Linked DNA regions of Homo sapiens: regions 2 and 3 are each linked to region 1. Evidence: fine-mapped expression QTL. A gene starts in region 1. Each other region holds a variant in brackets. All regions are shown on one strand. Distances are between the middles of the regions.

What was found. PIP is the estimated chance that this variant, and not a neighbour inherited with it, causes the effect. A credible set is the group of variants that fine-mapping cannot tell apart.
Region 2: its variant is the best candidate, but not a certain one, in a credible set for the expression of COLQ in naive CD4 T cells (Schmiedel 2018, PIP 0.62).
Region 3: its variant is the best candidate, but not a certain one, in a credible set for the expression of COLQ in thyroid (GTEx, PIP 0.80).

What each region holds. Positions count from the first base shown.
Region 1 is chr3:15,519,266-15,523,474 of GRCh38, reverse strand. It overlaps COLQ (collagen like tail subunit of asymmetric acetylcholinesterase), which reads left to right and starts at 1,769. Exons shown (of 17, transcript NM_005677.4): 1 at 1,769-1,955. The coding sequence starts at 1,850.
Region 2 is chr3:15,496,230-15,500,438 of GRCh38, reverse strand. The region is part of intron 1 of COLQ (collagen like tail subunit of asymmetric acetylcholinesterase); the gene reads left to right. It overlaps MIR4270 (microRNA 4270), which reads left to right and starts at 4,131; the gene lies at 4,131-4,200. The variant G/TGTGTGG (reference allele first, on the strand shown) is at 1,970.
Region 3 is chr3:15,457,583-15,461,791 of GRCh38, reverse strand. COLQ (collagen like tail subunit of asymmetric acetylcholinesterase) reads left to right here. Exons shown (of 17, transcript NM_005677.4): 13 at 3,467-3,606. Among named protein-coding and RNA genes, the nearest start is that of EAF1, 32 kb to the right of the region's middle. The variant G/A (reference allele first, on the strand shown) is at 2,366.

The DNA of each region.
Region 1 (4,209 bases):
TTCAGGTATATTTTTCATGCTTTCAAAAGCTTTCCTTATCAACTCTGTATCAGTTAGCTATTGCTGATGAGCAAGTCATCCTAAAACTTACTGGTTTGAAACAATAGCCGTTTTATTTGCTCATGACTTCGTAATCTGGGCTGGGCAGTTCTTTCGAGGGTCTCACTTGGGGTCACTCCTGTGGCTGGCATCATCTGAGACCAGGACAGGGCTAGATGTTCCAAAATGGCCTCACTCGCCTGTTGATGCTGCATCTGGGATAGTCAGAACAGCTGGAGGCTGGCTGCTTCCCCCTCCATGTGGCCTCTTCAATAGTCCAGACTTTTTAAAGTGGCAGCTGATTTTCAAGAAAAGGCAAAAGCAGGAGCTGCCAGGCCTTTTAAGGCCTAGGCCAGGAGATGGCACAGTGTCCCTTTAGCCACATTCTATTGGTCAAAGTAAGTCACAGAGCCACCTCAGATTTAAGGGAGGGGAACTAGCCCTGCTTTTTGCTGGGAAGAGTGTCATGCACACACTGGGTTGGGAGGACTTTTGGAGGCCATCTTTGCACCCAGGCTACCATGGCTCCCTTGGGTCTCCTTTGTGCTGTTCCTATGTGCAAGTTCTAATCCGTGTAGGATTCATCCCCATTACCTCACTTAACTTTCCAACAAACCTTTAAAGGGAACATTGTCTCCATTGTATGGATGAGAAAACTGAGGCTTAGAGAGGTGAGCTTGTCCACTGCCACTCAGAGCTGAGAGTCAAGCCCAAGTGTGGTGCTACAGCTGTAAAATATCACTTTATACCACGCCCTGACCCAACTCCACCTTCCCCATAATGAGCACAGGGGCAGGATGCCCACCCCAGCATCCAGTAACTAGCAGACTGTTTCTGAGTTAACTCCTATGAGGCATGTAATATGTAAATTAAAGCAAAATGAACAACTCTGTGAATTATTATTTTGTTTTAGTCATCTAATCATCTCTATAACAGGCTTTTATAAACTCATAAAAGGTATTAAGAATGTGATAATTTTTATTTGAATAATTTTGTCTAGCCAAAGATTAAGTTAGTGATGTTATTTTTCTGAATATAGTTTGATAAAAATCATTCACTTTTCTATACTTTTACTGTTTTCATTTATTTTGCCTTGCATTGAATCAAAAGGTTGCAGCTTTTGGAGAGAGAAACACTTTTTCACAGAGAAAGCTGTTTGGAAATATAAACTACTTCCTTCCTCCTTTTTATTGGATGATTAAAGAAAAAAATTAAAAGTTAACTTTACATTTGTTACACAATGGGTAAAAATGTCACAGGCTGACAGTGGAGGGGTTTTTCTCCATGAAATTCAGTTTGAATCAGGAGAGTTGTTTCTGCCCAGTTCCAAGGAGGTAGATGGTGGCACATAACCAATTAGGAATCTCTCTGCCCTTGAGGACTGCCTCCAGTGAACATCTGAGACTTGGCTGCCTTCTCATCACCTCTTCACTAGCCACTTACCTCAGTCTCCAAAAAAGAAAATTTTGACATCTTAATTTTAATGTGGGCATTTGATATGGAGCTTGAGATAAATATAACTCTCTGTAGCATGGAGACAGTTTAATGGGAAATGGTTGGCATTCTTTCTTGGTAAAGGCATGGGAGACAGGAGAGGTGGGGGAGGGAGAGAGAGGGAGGGGGTGAGGAGGAGGGAGAGGGAAAGAGAAAGAGGGAAAGACACACACACACACAGACACACACACACACGCACACACACACACACAAACACACGCGCACGCAAACAGCAGTGAGGAAGAGAAAAGCAGAGATAAGCAAGGCTCCGCAGCAGCCTCCTTTCTAACTTGACCCTCGCCAGACCCTGGCCAGCATGGTTGTCCTGAATCCAATGACTTTGGGAATTTATCTTCAGCTTTTCTTCCTCTCTATCGTGTCTCAGCCGACTTTCATCAACAGCGTTCTTCCAATCTCAGCAGGTAAATGATGGCCACAACTTTCCTCTCTTCCATCTGTCAGGGGACAGGGGGAGGAAGGAAGATTGTTTTGCAATGTGTCCTGATGTTTTTGCCATTCAACTGTTGGTGGAGGGAGGTTGGAAGGAAGACGGCCACCCCAGCAGCTTCCTGTCACCCGAGCTTGTCTCGGAAGCCCCTTCTGTCCTTGTTCCAACCGGCTCCTACCTGGCTGCTCAAAGCAGAGACACTTTGAAAAATGGTTTCTGCCTCCCCTATTCTCCCCATTTGCTGCATGATTTCATCTTGGTCAGGAATTTGGGAGAGCTTAAAAGAGACAGAGGTGTGCAAGTAATAGAGAAGTGAGTCTCAGATGTTTCTATAAATACATCTCTGACCTCTTCGAAGGGGGCTTGCCTCACAGGGGCTGTTGTGGAGTAAACAAACCTCTTTCCAGACCCAGATAGCATCCATGGCCACAATAGTCCCTCGAAGGGAAAATGCAGGTGGCAGGGGCCGGTGGGGTGGGGGGTGAACAGCGGCGGGGCAGTTGCAGCCTCAGGACTAGGTTTTCCCTTTCTCCAGACCTGTCTTCCTGGGTGCGACTTCCCTTCAGCCTCAGACAAGGCAGCTGGAGGTCCTGAGAGAAGTGAGCTTTCCAGGGAGAAGTGGAGGGGGTTCCACAGTGACAGCCAGGTCTGGAGCTGAGTGTGTCTGCCGGGTATGAGGCTGGGAGATTTGGGGAAGGGGCTGTGTCTGCCAGCCTGCAACCTTTTCTGAGGTCAGCAGCCTGTTGCCCTTGTCTTGTCTGACCCAGAGCAGGGGAAGTATTCGGTTACTAGTATGGCCTATTTAAACCTTTCTGAGGAAACTCAAATGTTTCCGGAGGGCTTGAAGGAGGCAGGCAGACCCTCACAGCCCCCCTCAATTCACCTCAGTGACCCCTGACTCTCCCCAGCAAAGTTTTAGTTATGCCTCCAACATGAGTCTCATAAATACTTCAACTGAGACAGAAATTTCACTATCGCTGCCTTTGCTGGAAACACAGGGAGGGCCAGAAATGCCAGGCTCTCAGAGAGGGCACATCTCTGAATCCAGCTCCCAACTGCTGTCCATTGATAAAAACAGCTCATCAGCAAGTTGTGTAGCCAACGTTTGTGGGCCATGAGGGAGTGACTCAGAGACTGGTGTGAGGCTAATTATAAAAGTGTGAGAAACAGAAGGAGGTGGGGGCAGATTTGTGGAGAATTCAGGAGGGTGGGCAGGAAAGGTGAGTGGTGGTGTCACCGTGGGTGTGTGCCCACATGCCCCTGCAAATTCAAGTTAAGAGCATCAAGCTTCTTCTAGGAGTGAGTAGTCATTATTCATTCCCCAGTTCAAGGGAGAAGCTTGAGAGTTAATTTGGCCTAATTTGGTGGTTCTTAATCATGTTTGGGTCATGGATTCCTTTGAGAATCTGCTGAAGGTTAGGACTTAAGGAAACTCAGTTTTCTGGTTCTAGCCCTGCCTCTGATGAGCTCCCTGACTTCTGAGAGACAGTGGCCTTACACTATAAGCACCATGTGGCCAGGGCATGTGTCTCTCTTGTACTTTACTGTTTTCCCAGGGTCAGAACAGTGCCTGGCACATAGTAATCAATAAATATTTGATGAATGAATGAATAAAAGCTTCTCATCTGCAAACTGGGGTTTACCATCATTTTGTATTACTTAATTTAAATAGCACCAAAGTGGTTAAGGAGTTCAGAAAACTAGAGAGAAAAGAACCTCTGGTTTTCTTTTGAACTCTTTGCCTTGGAGAGCACCCTGGCACAACATAGATATCTCTTAGGTAAGCTTTTTGCAGACTGTACCAATCAGGGCAACAGCAGGATAAAGAAGCAACTCAGGTGGTTCAGATGAAAAGATCTGAATGAAGGGATCACTTTGAGAGGTGTGGGCGGGGTTAAGGGAACCAACAAGGAATGCTGAGGCACCTAGAGATTAGCAACTGCAATATGCCTTTACCACCCTGTGCTTGAAAAGGCAAGAGGGGCAAATAGGAAAATGGATCCCAGGCAGATTTGGAGCCTTAGAGAAGGGGCCATTAAGCAAGAGCATTGGTCATGGAAGGCCCTAAAGCAGGGAGAAAGTGAAGGAGAAGTACACCATCTTCTCTCTCCTCCCATCCAAGCACCTTTTGGCAGCGCCTCTCATTGGCCAACCCAACTTGAAGCCAGAGGGCAGAGCCTGGAGGTCAGGGACTGGAACACTGAGGGCAGAGAGCCAAGGGGAGGGTT
Region 2 (4,209 bases), 23 kb after region 1:
TTTTGGTGTGAAAAGTGGCAAAACTTCCATCTCTGAAGGTTTGCGAAATGAAATTTGAAAAATGAAGAGCTGCAAGAATATGACTCAGAATAGAGAAAGTCAGGAAAATGTGATGCAGATACTTCTGCAACTCTCTAGGACTCAGGACTGAGGACTCCCTGGCCTTATTGCTACTTTCTCTGAGGTCTTAGACCCAGTTTCTGAGAAGGACAAAGGGGAATTCCCCAGAGAAGGAACACAGCCTAAGCCTCACCTCCCACTCCTCCCATCTTGATATAGCAAGTCTCTGCTTTCAAGTATCAGCTCAAATCCCACCTCTTCCAGGAATCCTTCCTTGATATCTCACTTGGACCCTCTACCCCTCAACCGTTACCCATTTCTTCCTTCTATAAATCCCTTCAGGCATCCCTGCCCTATGTTAGCCACTCTTCTTTTTTTACCTTATACAACAGTTATCCAAGAATATGTCAATAAGAGAGCCCTTATTCGGTGCCAGGAATTCCAAAAGCTGTAGCTCTAATCCTCACAGCAAACTATCAAAGTCGGCTTTGCACGCCCACTTTATAAGTAAGAAAGCTTAGACTCCGAAAGAATGAATAACTTCCTCAAGGTCACACAGCTACTAAGTGGCAAAACCAGGACTTAAGCCCAACTTGGATGACTCCAGGGCCAGTACTCTTCCCGTGACACTGAACGACACATTCCAAGGGCGGGAACTGTGTCTAGTCATTATGTCTTGCACAATTTGGTACTTACTGTGTTTCTGAATGAATAAAACAGTAAATGAATGAATGAACATAAGTGTCCTTTCTTTTGAAGGTTATAGTGCAGGGCTTGGCAAACTACAGCCTGTGGGCCGAATCCAGCCTGCCTCCTATATTTGTGTAAACTTTTACAAAACATGACCAATCTCATTCCTTCATGTATTGTCTATGGCTGCTGTCCTGTACAATGGCAAAGTGAGGTTGTAACGGAGACCATGTGACCCACAAAGCCTAAATATTTACTATGTTGACCTTTATAGCAAAAGTTTGCTGACTCCTGCTATAGCTTATGGTCTTTACTAAGCTGATCAAAACAACAGTGCTTATTGCTAAGTAGTATAATAATAATCTTGTCTTTTATAATCTAAAATATTGTGTGTGTCCATGCTTGTGCACTGGGTGTGCCTATAAAGTACCAGATAGATTTAAGCATGTAACTGGTATATGCCGCTTCATCCAAAAAGACTTGCCTACATGCCCTTTGGAAATCTATATATTTTGTTTGTTTGTGGTTTCGTTGTTGTTGTTTTAGTTACGTTTAGCTTTGTCAGCAACACTTTGGCCCAGACAGGATTAGAGCTGAGACCCCTGGCCATGAAGGTCTTCCCTGAAGCAGAGGAGGGCAGGCTCCCCTTGGACGGTCTCGGTGGGGGGTTGACTTTGAGGCTTACCAGAGCAGTCAATACTGCTGTGGTATTTTGAGTCAAGTCGGTTTTTGAGCCAAATGAAAAGCAGCCTGTTTGATTGCTCTCAATTTCCTCTTGGCTTGCAGGGGGATAAGTATCCCTGGGCTCCCAACCTCATATCCTCCCCTGGGCTGAAGGCACTCTTGTCCTCCAAGCCTCCCCTACAGCAGTGTTCATGGGCAGCTGGAGCAGGGCTGCCTACCCATTGCTACTCCCAGGAGCTCAGGACTGGCTCCAGACCCCTGGCATCTGGAGCAGAAGCAACATCAAAGCAGGGATTGGCCAACTCCCACCCCTAATGCCAAACAGGCCAGGCACTGGGAGCACTCAGAGGCGTGACGAATCTCAGCCTGTCTCCGGCTAGTGTTCCCTGGCCAGTCCGCTTTGGGCCCTGCCTCACAATGACGGGCTCATCATTCAGCCTCGCTCATCTGCTCATCATTTCAGGACTGCTCTGTTACTCGGCAGGCTGCTTGGGTGAGTTGTGTGTGCGTGTGTGCACGTGTGTGTGTGTGTGTG[G/TGTGTGG]ATGCACATGCATTGTTTTGGAAAAAAGACTCTTGGAAAGCAGACTGTACTAGGAGGTTTTAGCAGCCTTTAAATTTTTTTTCTTTTTAAGTTTTTCTTTCACAGGGCTGTTTCTCATTGTGAAAGCCTTTAAATTTTAAACTGCTCAGCCAGTGTTGAAGTTGCAATGCAAAGGGGTTTCACAGTAGAGTTGGTGGGGACCTGGCATACATGCTAACGGGTGTGTGCACTTGTCTGTGTCCCTCTTGTGACCTTGACTGACACAAGTACCTTGTGCTGGCAGCTGGTACCTTGGCTGGCAGCTGGTACCTTGGCTTTGAAGTAAAATCGTGTTCTGTAGTCTGGGCCCCCGCTGGCGTTGGGTGGCTGAGACAGTCTCCATCACTCTTGAGTGGACTGCCTTGGGTAATTTGGCTCAGAGGCACAGCCACCAAACCACAAATTGTTCTTTGTAGGTTGTATCCTTGCCTGCTCAGGGACATACAGCAGAAGGCAAACTCTACCATGTTCTTTCAGAGAAGTTCAAATTACGTGCAACTTTTAGGATCAGAATTTGTCTTTCAAGGTTTGTTGTGGGGATTGAAGGAAAATTGTAGGGTGCAGCCTTCTCTGGAACATGTGAATTGGGGGGAATTTTGGGCAAATTGCATTCAGTTAATGTAAGAACTTTACTGTAGCTGAGACCCAACTCACTACAATAAAGTCAAAGCACTCTGAGCTGCCATACAGCGTGTGCCCTTGGCTTTCTCTCTTCTTTGGGGTCTGTCTCTCTCATGCAAGTTCCCACAGGCAGGGAAAGGCCCCAAAAGAGGAGGAGGAAGTAAAAAGCTGACTAGTCCACCAACTGGACAGGCAGGTGCAGAACAGTTAAATGGCTGCACTTGTAATTCTCTCAACCTGCTGAGGCAGGATGCTTATGTCACTTCTTTCCTTTGACAGTTTCTAATGACACATTTGTTGGATTGAGGGGGTGGGAGGGAAGGCTACTTGATGGAAAAACAGAAGGCAGAAATGGAAATGGCTATTTCCAGTAACCTATTGTGGGGCTGGCCTTGCAAGAGGGTAGATGAAGATGGATACAGTGGTGGTTCTGGTGTCATACTTATTTTAAAAAGGGACTAAAGGAGGCCAGGTGCAGTGGCTCATGCCTGTAATCCCAACACTTTGAGAGGCTGAGGTGGGCGGATCACCTGAGGTCAGGAGTTCAAGACCAGCCTGGCCAACATGACAAAACCCCATCTCTAGTAAAAATACAAAAATTAGCCAGGCATGGTGGCACTCGCCTGTAATCCCAGCTGCTCAGGAGACTGAGGCATGAGAGTGGCTTGAACCCTGGAGGCGGAGGTTGCAGTGGGCTGAGAACCCACCACTGCACTCCAGCCTGGGCAATAGAGTGAGACTTCGTCTCAAAAAAAAAAAAAAAAAAAAAAAAAGGCAAAAGGACTTTGGAGATGATTTGGGCAAAACTCTTTGTGGTACAGATGAGGAAACTAAGTTTCAGATTGAGTAAGTGAGTTGTACTGGCTCACATGGCCACTTGCACCTAGACTTAACACTCTTTAATCAAATCCATGTCTTTCCAAGAGTAAATTGGAGAAAATCGCTTTCCAAAGATGTGCCTCAGTTTCTTGAAATGAAACAAGAGAAAGTCTCCTTTTCAAGAATGGGTATTGAGTCCAAAGGGCAAAACCAGCATCATCGACAACAAAAGCTTCAAACACTTGCCAAAGCCTGCATTAAACAATTACCCATAATTTGGCAATGCACTGGCCACATACAACATGAGCTTGATGTCTTTAAGTTGGGACATGCGGTCCTGAAGTTCCGTGATGGTTGGCATTTCCAAGGCAGCTGCCTGGTGCTGAGCCACGTGCTGCTCCCAGGTTTCTGCAGGCTCCACGGAGATACGCACAGGATTGCTTTCAATACAACAGAGCCTTCCGGGGCTTTTCCAGACTGGAGCCTGAGCTCAGACACAATTCTATAGAGACAGTCCATGAGAAAGACCCACAGGCCACTCGGATGACACCAAAATAGACATGTGAAGTCCTGGCTTAGTTGACTGGGAGGGAGGAGGGAGGGGGAAGCTGCTCCCAAACACGTCCACCTGATGGAAATATTCTGAACAGGAATGAGCTGTAAATAAACTAGGCTCCTAAAAACAAATAGCTTCAGGGAGTCAGGGGAGGGCAGAAATAGATGGCCTTCCCCTGCTGGGAAGAAAGTGGGTCAAGGGGGAA
Region 3 (4,209 bases), 62 kb after region 1:
CTTGGCCTCTGTAGACCACAGGTTAAAACTCCCCTGGTCTAGTCCTACCCTCCCCTTAGAGAAAAGAATCTTGAACCTCAAAGAGAAGTGATGCCTGCAAGGTCACAGCAGTGACTGGGGGCCACCCTGGTCCAGAATGGGTGAGTGTCAGCCAGGCGGCCCTAGAGGTTGTTGTGCTGGTTCCTCTGCCCTCTCCTAGATTCCCCTTTCCTGATCCTTTCCCACTGAGGCAGCCAATGGAAGCGGGAGCCTGCCTGGGAAAAGATGGAGAGCCAGGTCCTCTGGCTGCAGGGGGTGGCGATGAAACCCAGCTGAGACATGATCTCCCAGAGGTCAGGGTGGGGAAGTTCAGGTTGCTGAGTCCTTTAGTATAGCCTGGCAGAAAACAGGCAGGGGTAACAGATGCCCTGCAGCAACTGGGAGGAAGCTGCAGGGAAACTGCAGTGGTGGCAGCAGGCTCCCTGCCACATCCTGTTGGGAGGTGACCTCGGTTTCTGGTGCCCAGCTCTGTGGGACCAGATGGTGCTGGGGGAGGTGGAAAGGGTGAGAGCTTTGTACTTATCTGAGTTAGAGGGTAAGAGGGGCTAAGAGGTCGGGGGGGGAATAAAGGCAAAATGCCTTTAGGATGTAATTTGCAATAATCAAATTACAAATTTGGCTGAGTCCTTCCTGTACCCAGACAGAGTATAAGTGAATCAACGTGGTACCTGGGAATTGCCAGCTTCCTGAGAGCATCAGTATTCTTGGACATTTGTCTTTTGAACAGCATAGTGTTAAGTAAAACATGAATTCAAATCTCAGCCTCACCATTCATCAGCAGCTAATGGGACAAACTCCTGACTGTCTCTCAGGCCATGGTTCTGGAGGAGTTGTTGGGGTCACAGAGCCTTCTGGAAGGCTGTTCCAATGCCACCCTCATATTCTTGGTCACAGAGCTTTTCCACTTCAATTTCCCCAAGTGCTTAATTACCCAGAATATTCCTAGCCTGGTGGATTCCCTGTCTCTCTGGGCTCTTCTGAAAATATCAGAACACAGACTGGAGCTCTTCCTACAGAATTATATTTGTATTTCTTGTTAGAACAAACAACCATAACTTAGGATAAGATATTGGCACAGTGCCCTTCCCCTCATGCTGTCAGCATTCTGATTGTACGAATACCTGTCAACTCGCTCAGGAAAGTTCAGTCTCCTCCGACTGCAGTGTTTTCCCTGGGGTCCTGGCCAGATCTCTCCCCTGGGGTCATTTTATTTCCTGCCCTTCTGGATCTGTGAACTGTGTTCCCAGCCCCTGGCTGCCCCAGATGTCATACTGCCTGACACCAATGACTGGCTGGCCTCCAAACCCACCCCTCGCTATTTTCCCAGAAGAAGGGATCCTTACCTATTTCTCTTCTCAGTCCCCATCTTTTTTTCTCTTTCCTCACTTCCTGTTAGATGGCTTTTGTTCTGGTGCTTTTCTGCCAGCCAGAATGTGACTTTTACCCTCTTCTGAAGACTTTTTCTCTCCAATTAGTCGGCATTCATTCATTCGATCATCAAACACTTTCCATGCCCCTACTTTGTGTAAGCCCTGGTGGATGAAAACAGGCACTAGCCCTGTCCTTGTGGAGCGACATTCTACTGGAGATCAACCTTGATGGAATAATCTCACAATATATAGAATCACAAAGAGAAGTGCTGTGAAGAAAGGCATAGGAAACCATGAAATTGTATCCCAGGTATACATGACAGAGTCTGAGGATTCAAAAAGTCTTCCTTCAAGAAGTGATGTTTGAACCCAGATCAGAAGGGAGTTGAGAGGCAGCTGGGGAGGGATGGAGGATGAAGGGAGGATGATCTGGCAGGGGAATGGCCCAGTTCTCAACCTTGGGGCAAATTGGAATCATCTTGAGAGCTTTTAAAAATATGGATGCCTAGCACATGTATACATATGTAACTAACCTGCACATTGTGCACATGTACCCTAAAACTTAAAGTATAATAATAATAATAATAATAAAATATGGGTGCCTGACCAGGCGCGGCAGCTCACACCTGTAATCCCAGCACTTTGGGAGGCCAAGGGAGATGGATCACTTGAGGTCAGGAGTTCGAGACCAGCCTGGCCAACAGAGTGAAACCCTGTCTCTACTAAAAACACAAAAATTAGCCAAACCTGATGGCACGTGCCTGTAGTCCCAGCTACTCAGGAGGTTGAGGCAGGAGAATCACTTGAACCTGAGAGGCGGAGGTTGCAGTGAGCTGAGATTACACCACTGCACTTCACCCTGGGCGACAGAGTGAGGCTCCGTCTCCAAAAAAAAAAAAAAAAAGGATGCCTTATGCTAAAGTGGTAAAAAAATTTTTTTTAATAAATAAATAAAA[G/A]TGTGGATGCTGCCTAGGTTCAGTTCAGTTTTCAGAAGTCTTGATGGAATTGGTCTGAGGTGTATCCTGGGTATCAGAGCCTTTAAAAACCAAGGTACTACCCTCACAGTTCTTCCACATTGCTAGGGAGTACACTTTCTGATCATATCTTTTCAAGACATGTCCTCACTTCTTCAGCACCAGGGGAGGGTAAATGGGCAGAGCATATACTAATGTTCTATTTTCTTCCAGAAGAAATGAAAGAAACCCACATCCAGAAATTCCTCTGTAAAGATCCTACATTGGCTGGGTATGGTGGCTCACGCCTGTAATCCCAGCACTTTGGGAGGCTGAGGTGGGCGGATTACTTGAGGTCAGGAGATCGAGACCAGCCTGGCCAACATGGCAAAACCCCGTCTCTACTAAAAATACAAAAATTAGCCTGGTGTGGTGGCACACACCCGTAATCCCAGCTACACAGGAGGCTGAGGCAGGAGACTCACTTGAACCTGGGAGGCAAAGGTTGTAGTGAGCCAAGATCGTGCCACTGCACTCCAGCCTGGGCAACAGAGCAAGACTCCATCTCAAAAAAAAAAAAAAATTCTATATATAAGAAAAACAAAAGTTTTTTAAAACAATAAAAGTTAACAGTCAATAATGTGTTTGTCGGCAAGAAGCCCTCTGTTAATAATGGTCTAAACAAATAAGACATTGTTTTTCTCCAATAAAGAAATCCAGAGGCAGGCAGTAGCTGGCTTTGATTCAGCCTCTGACTGTCACTGTCAGGGCCCCAGGCCCCATGAGCCTTTCGTCTTTCCTGCATGTTGGCTTATCTTCTCATGCTTGTGACTTCCTGGTTGCAACACGGCTGCTGCAACACCAGACATCTTGCCTGTCTTCAAGGCAGGAAGGAGGGGGAAACTATCGCCTACCAGCTATTTTTCTTACCTTAGCTCCTCCATGTCTTGGATCAAAAGCATCTCTTTGAACCTCTCCCTCAGGCATACCCTGAAATGCTGTGGACTTTAACCTTTTTTCTGTTGCAAAGGTCGCTCACATCTCCCTGGTTGTTTGGTCTTCTCTTCCTTGGCTCTAGTAACACAGCAGTCTGTTGCTTCCTAGGACAACTTATAATGGGACCCAAAGGGGAAAGAGGATTTCCCGGGCCTCCAGGAAGATGTCTTTGTGGACCCACTATGAATGTGAATAACCCTTCCTACGGGGAATCTGTGTATGGGCCCAGTTCCCCGCGAGTTCCTGTGGTAAGGCTTTCTGGGAGAAGTCTGGGGTGGTTATCCGTGAGGACCTCTCACCTGATCCTTATGGGGCTTTGTAAAATCCTTTCAGTAAAACTAACTTTTTTTCACGACTCTGAGTACACCCTCATTATAGGAAATTGGAAAATATGAGAAAATCAAGAGGAAAACCAAATTGTCCATTTGATTGTGAGTCCATTTTGGGGTATTTTCTTTGTCTTATTAAAATCTAACTTTTATATGGTTGAGATTATATTGTATAAAAATGTACTTTTGGCCGGGCATGGTGGCTTATGCCTGTAATCCCAGCACTTTGGGAGGCCAAGGTGGGTGGATTATAAGGTCAGGAGTTCGAGATCAGCCTGGCCGATACAGTGAAACCCCATCTCTACTAAAAAATATATTTAAAAAATTAGCCGGGCGCGGTGGTGCACGCCTGTTGTCTCAGCTACTTGGGAGGCTGAGGTGGGAGAATCGCTTGAACCCAGGAGGCGGAGATTGCAGTGAGCTGAGATAGCACCACTGCACTCCAGCCTGGGCAACAGAGCGAGACTCCGTCTCAAAAAAAGTTATACTTTGTTATCTTAGTTGAAATCCTGCCATGTTTCC